Linked DNA regions of Homo sapiens. The main gene of each other region encodes a partner of the protein of the gene in region 2 in a complex. Each region holds a gene or a part of one and is shown on either strand. Other genes may lie near its edges.

Region 1 (3,747 bases), on a different chromosome or scaffold from region 2:
GTTGTTCCGCTCACTCCCTTCCCCCAATTCTTCCCTGACCTTATCTCCTAATACTCCCTCAGCTCACAGTGCTCCAAACGCGTTGGTCTTCACACTCTTAACGGGCCAGCTTTGTCCTCCTCAAGGCTTTTATGTTTGTTATTCTCTAGCTTGGAACGTTCCTTTCCCCAGATAAACGTAGGCTCTCACTCCACCTTCTAGTCCGCTTAAATATCAGCTTGTCTGTATGGACTTCCCTGACCACTTTATTGCAAATTCCAACACCACCACCTCCCCAACCCCCTTTCCAGCTTTCTTTTCCCTAAGATACTGATCATCTTCTAACATTCAGTATAATATATGTATCTGTTTGCCTCTCCTCCCGCTACTAGAAAGTTAAGTTCCCCAAAGGCAGGGGTCTAACACCTATCCCTATCACCTAGAACGGCGCTAGAGAATAGGCACCAATAAAAATACCCCTTGAATGAACGAATTGCACATTAGGCTACACAATGCTTCTTCCAGGTACAGGAAGATATATTTTCTTTTCCCAGCTGTCAAAATATAAACATTAATTTTTGTACGAAACACTCATTGCTCACCTCTTATGTGCCAGAAATGAGCTTGGCTCTGCAAAGCGCCTTAAGACATAGTCCCTGCGCTTGAGGAAGTCCTGGGTGTGTATACGAGAGAGGACAGACATAGAAACATCATTGACAAAAAGAAAACACAGGGAAGCCACAAGAAATTGGATAACTGCCTATAGGAGTGGGGGCAAGAGGGAAATTCTCAGTGATGAGAATGTAATTCCCCAAAACTCTCGACAGCTTCTCCTGTTTTTGATGCATATGTTTGCAATTCCATGTAAATTATTTATTCACATCAGATACGCTCTCAAGTAGGCCGCAAAAAAGTTTGTGTGACTACAGTGATGCTAATAATCGACCTACTCAACGCTGCACAAAGATCATCGCCTATATCTTTTCACTCCTCTCATTTGGCAGCTTTTGCCTCTCAGGACCCCAAATTCGGAGGCCTGCATCTCCCAAGCGCTGCCTCCTTGGGTCAGAATTCTCCCCGCGCTATTCCTGCCCTGGAGCCGGGCACCCTGCAAATCCTTTTCCTAGGCGAGGGGGCGCCGCCTCCGGAAAGCCGCCAACTGGGCCTCGGTAAGACTTGTGAGGGAAGCGGGAGCTGTGGGAGGGCGACGCGGCTAGGAAGGAACCCTAGAGGCCTCAGCCCCCACTCCCACCCCTTCCCGGCACCCCGGCCGCCGGTGCCCCGAGGCTCTGCCGACTCTTTGTTAAGCGAGGCCGCGGTTCCTCCGCCCTCGCTAGGCCCAGCAGTTGCCTCCAGTGCCCCCAAGGACTGGCGGCCTTGCGTCCAGAAACCCCACGCACAAACCTGCTGCTATGGCTGCAGCGGCAGCTGCTACAACCGCGGGCGCGGAGCGAATCCCGGAGCCCAAAGTACGCGCTGTCCCGGCCCGGTCCCGCCGCGCTCCTTCCTCTCCGCCCCCTTCGCCGCCGCCGCCGCCACCACCACCACCGCCGCCGCCACCGCCACCACCGCCACCGCCTCACGGCCCGTTGCTGAAGGGGGGAGGGGAACAAAAACGCGACATGCGCAGTGAGGAACGCGCGGGCAGAAGGGCGGGGCCGGGGCTACGGCTCCCGGAAGGCGCCTGACCTTAAAGCTCCAGAACGCCTCACAGGCTCCTCAGATACTCTGACGGGAAACTGCAGTTGGGTGGACAGTGTTCATGACCCATCTAGAAAGTGGGTCTGCGAATGAAGAAAAAGTGGCGTCAAGGGGCTAGCCAAAAATCCCAAGAGAAAACGGGTTGGACAGAAACCATATTTACATGAACATGCCTATAGTTTAAACTGTTGCATATACTACTAGAGCGACACTCTTGCCTCTGGCCACGTGGTCCCACACAGCATGGCCACCTTTAGCTTCCGGAGCACCGGTTCCGTGTGACGTCAACTTGACGGAATCCTAGGTAGGAGGATTGGGATAGGCGAGGGCAGTTCCGGCCCAGGGGCGGGGATTATGTAATTTTCCCAAAAGCCCCACCTCGCCTCAGCCGGGCGGGAGAGAGGGAGGTCTCGCGCTTTCCCCGGGGTTGCGTCCCGCCCCGCAGGCTGCGCGCAGGCGCTGACGAGCCGCTCGCATTCTACGTAACGGACGGCGGAGGCTACGTGAAGAGAGGCGCGGCGTGACTGAGCTACGGTTCTGGCTGCGTCCTAGAGGCATCCGGGGCAGTAAAACCGCTGCGATCGCGGAGGCGGCGGCCAGGCCGAGAGGCAGGCCGGGCAGGGGTGTCGGACGCAGGGCGCTGGGCCGGGTTTCGGCTTCGGCCACAGGTAAGGAGCGGGCCAGGACGCGCTCGTCGGCGTGGCCGGGCCAGGCCGAGCGGTGACTCCGAGTTGCTTGGCCTGTAGCCCGGTCCGGTTGAGATAATTGTAATGGTTTGGGGGAACTTTCCCACGGAGCTGTGAGCAAATGATAGCCAAAAGGGCAGAGTTAGAGGAAATGTACAGTGTGTGCCGGAGGATGACATTAGGATGTATTGATTCTCTTGGGTGGGGAGAAACTAGGCAAAGGGGTTTAATAGAAGCAAAAACCTCTGTGGCCAGTCTCTTCTGGAGGTTTCTAAAATGAAACGTGTTTGTATCCAACACATATAAAGAGACAGAGGAAAGTCTGCATGATTTCCAGAATACTCGTTTTGGCCGTTGTCAGGAAGACCTAATCTAAAATGACAACAAGGAATGATGGCCTCACTCAGTCCTCTTTCCTCAAGTCTAGACTCAGTCGCTGAGGAACTATTGGATGAGCTTGCAGAAAATAATCAAACCAGACTTGTTAGCGCTTGTGTGAATTTTCCTTGGTCCTGTGTTGCTTGCTTCAGGAGTCATAGAGGCTGGGTGGTCTGGCAAGGACTTGTGCATTTGAGAACTGACAGGTGCAGCGGAGACTTCTAAGAGGGAAAACCAAGGTAAAAATGGCTTGGATGATTGTAACCTAAATAACCTTGAAGGATCTCCATTATAGTGCTGAGTTATCTCAGAAGTGTTTCTATGGTGTGAATATTCTAATTGGAAATTCAATTTGAAATGATCGGATCTTTTGGCAGGCTGTTAATCGAGTTGACTGTTCCGGTGTTAACTTTTAGTTGCTTCTATATGAAAAAAAAGTTTTAAGAGTAGGATTTGAAAAGGAGGCTGGGCGCGGTGGCCCACGTCTGTAATCCCAGCACTTTGGGAGGCCGAGACGGGTGGATCACGAGGTCAGGAGATCGAGACCATCCTGGCTAACACAGTGAAACCCCGTCTCTACTAAAAATACAAAAAATTAGCCCTGCGTGGTGGCGAGCGCCTGTAGTCCCAGCTACTTGGGAGGCTGAGGCAGAAGAATGGCGTGAACCCGGGAGGCGGAGCTTGCAGTGAGCCGAGATCGTGCCACTGCACTCCAGCCTGGGTGACAGAGTCAGACTCCGTCTCAAAAAAAAAAAAAAAAAAAAACCCTTGGTACATATCTCCCGTAATACCCACTGCAGCCCTAAGAGGCAAGTAGCAAATGGTATCCCTTTTTTGTATGTGGAGAACAGGGAATTTTAAGTAATTAGGCTAAGGTCATATTGCTGGTAAATGGTAGAGCTGACATTTTATTTTATTATTTATCTATTTTTTTGAGACAGAGTCTCACCCTGTTGCCCAGGCTGGAGTGCAGTGGCGCAATCTTGGCTCACTACAACCTCCA
Region 2 (3,747 bases):
TGGATCGTGGAGGAAGGTGCATTTCGGAGGATCAGTCCAGTACTAGAAAAACTATATACGAGGCCAGGCGCAGTGGTGGCTCACGCCTGTAATCCCAGCACTTTGGGAGGCCGAGGCAAATGGGTCACTTGAGGTCAGGAATTGAGACCAGCCTGGCCAACACAGTGAAAACCCCTCTACTAAAAATGCAAAAACTAGCCGGGCGCGGTGGCACACGCCTTTAATCTCAGCTACTCGGGAAGCTGAGGCGTGAGAATAGCTAGAACCAAGGAGGAGGAGGCTGCAGTAAGCCGAGATCAAGCCGCTGCGCTCCAGCCTGGGCGACAGCGAGACTTCGTCTCAAAAACAAAACAAACAAACAAAAAATACATACCAGATAAATTTGGTAAGCTTTAAAACTTCCCCCACGTCTGGGCCGGGCGCGGTGTCTCACACCTGTAATCCCAACACTTTGGGAGGCCAAGGCGGGTGGATCAAGGTCAGGAGATCGAGACCATCCTGGCTAACACAGTGAAACCCCGTCTCTACTAAAAATACAAAAAATTAGCTGGGCGCGGTGGCGGGCGCCTGTAGTTCCAGCTACTCGTGAGGCTGAGGCAGGAGAATGGCGTGAACCCGGAAAGCGGAGCTTGCAGTGAGCAGAGATCGCGCCACTGCACTCCAGCCTGGGCGACAAAGCGAGACACCGTCTCAAAAAAAGAAAAATTAGCCGGGCGTGGTGGCACGCGCCCGTAATCCCAGCTAGTCTACTCGGGAGGCTGAGGTAAGAGAATCGCTGGAACCCGGGAGGCAGAGATGGCAGTGAGCCGAGATCGCGCCACTGCTCTCCAGTCTGGGCGACAGACTGTGACTCCGTCACAAAAACAAAACAAAACAAAACAAAAAAAACTTCCCCCACGTCTGTTTACCATTATTACAAAAAGCTTGTATGATTGCTCACTGCATCTTCTCCATCCTCCAAGGAAACATCATCGCATTTAAACTCTGTCCTCCATTACGCAAACGAGAAAATAGAGGTTCAGAGGAGGAGACAAGTTGCCCAACTACCAAAATACAAATTCAAACCGGAGTCTTGGCTCTAAAGACTGTTTCCGTTATTTACGCTTTTAACACGCTCCATCTTTCTATCTTCCCCTCGGTGTACCATTTACTCTACCCAGAGGGAGACATCCATGCCTCCCGCTGCTTGTCACACCTCCCCCGTCTCAGAGTCCCCAGAAGTTAAAAGCAATCTCCACGAGCCCTATTTTGAGATAGAATATGTTCCCACACTGTGGATGGAAGCGAGAGATAACTGCAGGAAGCCGTTTTGGCGCCTCAACCATCCCTCGGTACCTCCTCCTGGTCCCCAGCCTCTCGGGCCTAGACTGCCCGTGACCCCCGCCAAAGTCTCGGGTCCCCCTTCCATATGGCCGGTCTCCGCCTCCCCGGGCCCGGGGAAGTCTCCAGGCTGTTTTTTTACCCTGCAGCGAGAAGGATGGTGTGGATATCCAACGGATGCTACCTCCCTTCAAAACTTAAGCCACCACCAACTCCAACATACTGGCGTCCGCCATTAGACCTCAAGACAGGGACATTCTGGTGGCGCGCGGCGGAAAAAGGCACCCAATCCGCGCCTGAAGAATATATATAATTTTTAAAAAATGCTTCCGTCTTGCTTCCACACGGCATTACAAATTATTTAAACATGCTTTATTGCTTTGCTTTTTCCAGGAGAATAGAAAATTAATACGTTTTTAGAAGTAGACTTTAAAAAAAAAAAACCATTAGAGTTCATTGGGCACTTCTGTGGGCAGCCCCAAATAGGCGCCAACGAAGAGGGGGCCTCGCGGGACCGGAAGTGCCGAATGGGGACCAAGATGGCGGACCTTGATTCGCCTCCGAAGCTGTCAGGGGTGCAGCAGCCGTCTGAGGGGGTGGGAGGTGGCCGCTGCTCCGAAATCTCCGCTGAGCTCATTCGCTCCCTGACAGAGCTGCAGGAGCTGGAGGCTGTATACGAACGGCTCTGCGGCGAGGAGGTGCGGGGTCGAGCCTCTTCTTTTTCATGGAGGATCTAGGGAGAGTGGGAGCCTTCAGTCGGGAAATCCGGGCTGTGGGAAACTCTCCTTGCTGGGGGATACAAAAAAGCGGGAAAACAAAGAAGCGGAAGCTAGTCGGGTATATGAGTAGTCCTGTCAACTCTTTTCACGCTGTCGGACGCGCCGAGCTTGTCTTCCCTGATACCTGGGCGATCTGCAGCCTCTCCTCCCTAGACCCCCGTTGATTTCCCTGATCCATGATCACCAGTTTCTCCACGGGAGTAAAGTTAGTCTGAGAGTATTTGCCAAATTGCTTGGTTCTCAAAATAATAAGCGCCCTTTTGCATTGGCTTAATTTACAAATTATGAAACGCTCTCATCCTGTTATTTAAGAGGGAAGCCTTTGCAGATTAACTTCTTGAAGCGTTTTAAGACTTCCTCTTGTGGGGAGTGATTTGGGGGTGTGATTTTAGCGTTTTGGTCAAATGCACATCTTTGTAGAGGTTTAGCTTTTAAGACTCAGACACAATTCTCTAATCTTGGACAAGTCACTTCATCTCTGGTACCCTTGATATTTTATCAAATGAGGGGTGTGGACTATTCTCCAATTCCTTTCAGTTCATAACGTTCTATTTCCTGCCTCCTTTAATTTTCAGTGGCAACTCGATGCTGTCAATTCACTTTCGAATGTCAGTTGGGTTCCTTGCTAGTCAAAAGAGATCTAAGCTCTAAGCTTGTCAGCTGTTTCCCAGACCAAACTTCTAGCAAAGTTGAGCACAAAAGGCAGTTTCAGCCTGAGGGAGAGGTGATCGTTGATATCTTTGAGTATTTTCAAGTATAAACTTGCACTAACTCTAGCAGTTTCTGATACGTTTTTCAGCAAGATGTGTGTGGTGTTTTTTGTTTTGTTTTGTTATTTTTAGAAACAGGGCCGCTCTCTGTTGCGCAGGCTGGAGTGCTGTTGTGCTGCAATCAGAATGGATGAAACCAGAGGCGCACACCACCGTGCCTGGCTAGTTTAGTGTGTGGGGCTTTTTTTGTCTGGCCTCAGCAAGATGTGTTTTAAAATTTAGTATCTTGCGGGGCGCGGTGGCTCACGCCTGCCATCCCAGCACTTTGGGAGGCCAAGACGGGAGGATCACCTGAGTCAGGAGTTCGAGACCAGCATGACCAAAATGGTGAAAACCATCACTACTAAAAATACAAAACTAGCCGGGTGTGGTGACGCATGCCTGTAATCCCAGCTACTCGGGAGGCTGAGGCAGGAGAATTGCTTGAACCTGGGAGGCGGAGGTTGCAGTGAACCAAGATAGCGCCATTACACTCTAGCCTGGGCAACAAGAGCAAAATTGTGTCTCTTAAAAAAAAAAAAAGCCTGGCGCGGTGGCTCACTCCTGTAACCCCAGCACTTTGGGAGGCTGAGGCAGATGGATCACGAGGTCAGGAAATCGAGACCATCCTGGCTAACACAGTGAAACCCCGTCTCTACTAAAAATACAAAAAATTAGCCGGGCGTGGTGGCGGGCGCCTGTAGTCCCAGCTACTCGGGAGGCTGAGGCAGGAGAATGGCGTGAACCAGGGAGAAGGAGCTTGCAGTGAGCCGAGATCGCACCACTGCACTCCAGCCTCGGCGACAGAGTGAGACTCTGTCTCAAAAAAAAAAAAAAAAAAAATTTAGTATCTTGACTTAACATTCCTAAGCTCGCATTCATTCAGTCATTTAATATGT

What was found. Proteins that work in one complex are often made in the same cells at the same time.
Region 1: the proteins of SF3B3 (region 2) and DDX42 are in contact, whole or in part, in a cryo-EM structure (PDB 7EVN), measured with the Homo sapiens proteins. Residues at the interface, in NP_036558.3 of Homo sapiens: Glu159, Ala160, His161, Tyr211, His219, Val220, Val221, Arg222, Lys223; in NP_031398.2 of Homo sapiens: Lys145, Gly146, Ile147, Arg148, Asp149, Asp150.

The regions. Positions count from the first base shown.
Region 1 is NC_000017.11:63,772,013-63,775,759, reverse strand, and holds the start of DDX42 (ATP-dependent RNA helicase DDX42), read right to left. Parts: upstream 1,591-3,747; 5' UTR 1,384-1,590; intron 653-1,383; exon of another isoform or gene 582-652; intron 1-581. UniProt on the Homo sapiens protein: ATP-dependent RNA helicase that binds to partially double-stranded RNAs (dsRNAs) in order to unwind RNA secondary structures. Unwinding is promoted in the presence of single-strand binding proteins.
Region 2 is NC_000016.10:70,521,644-70,525,390, reverse strand, and holds the start of SF3B3 (splicing factor 3B subunit 3), read right to left. Parts: upstream 1,576-3,747; 5' UTR 1,463-1,575; intron 1-1,462. Other genes in the region: COG4 (conserved oligomeric Golgi complex subunit 4), read left to right, coding at 1,848-2,018. UniProt on the Homo sapiens protein: Component of the 17S U2 SnRNP complex of the spliceosome, a large ribonucleoprotein complex that removes introns from transcribed pre-mRNAs.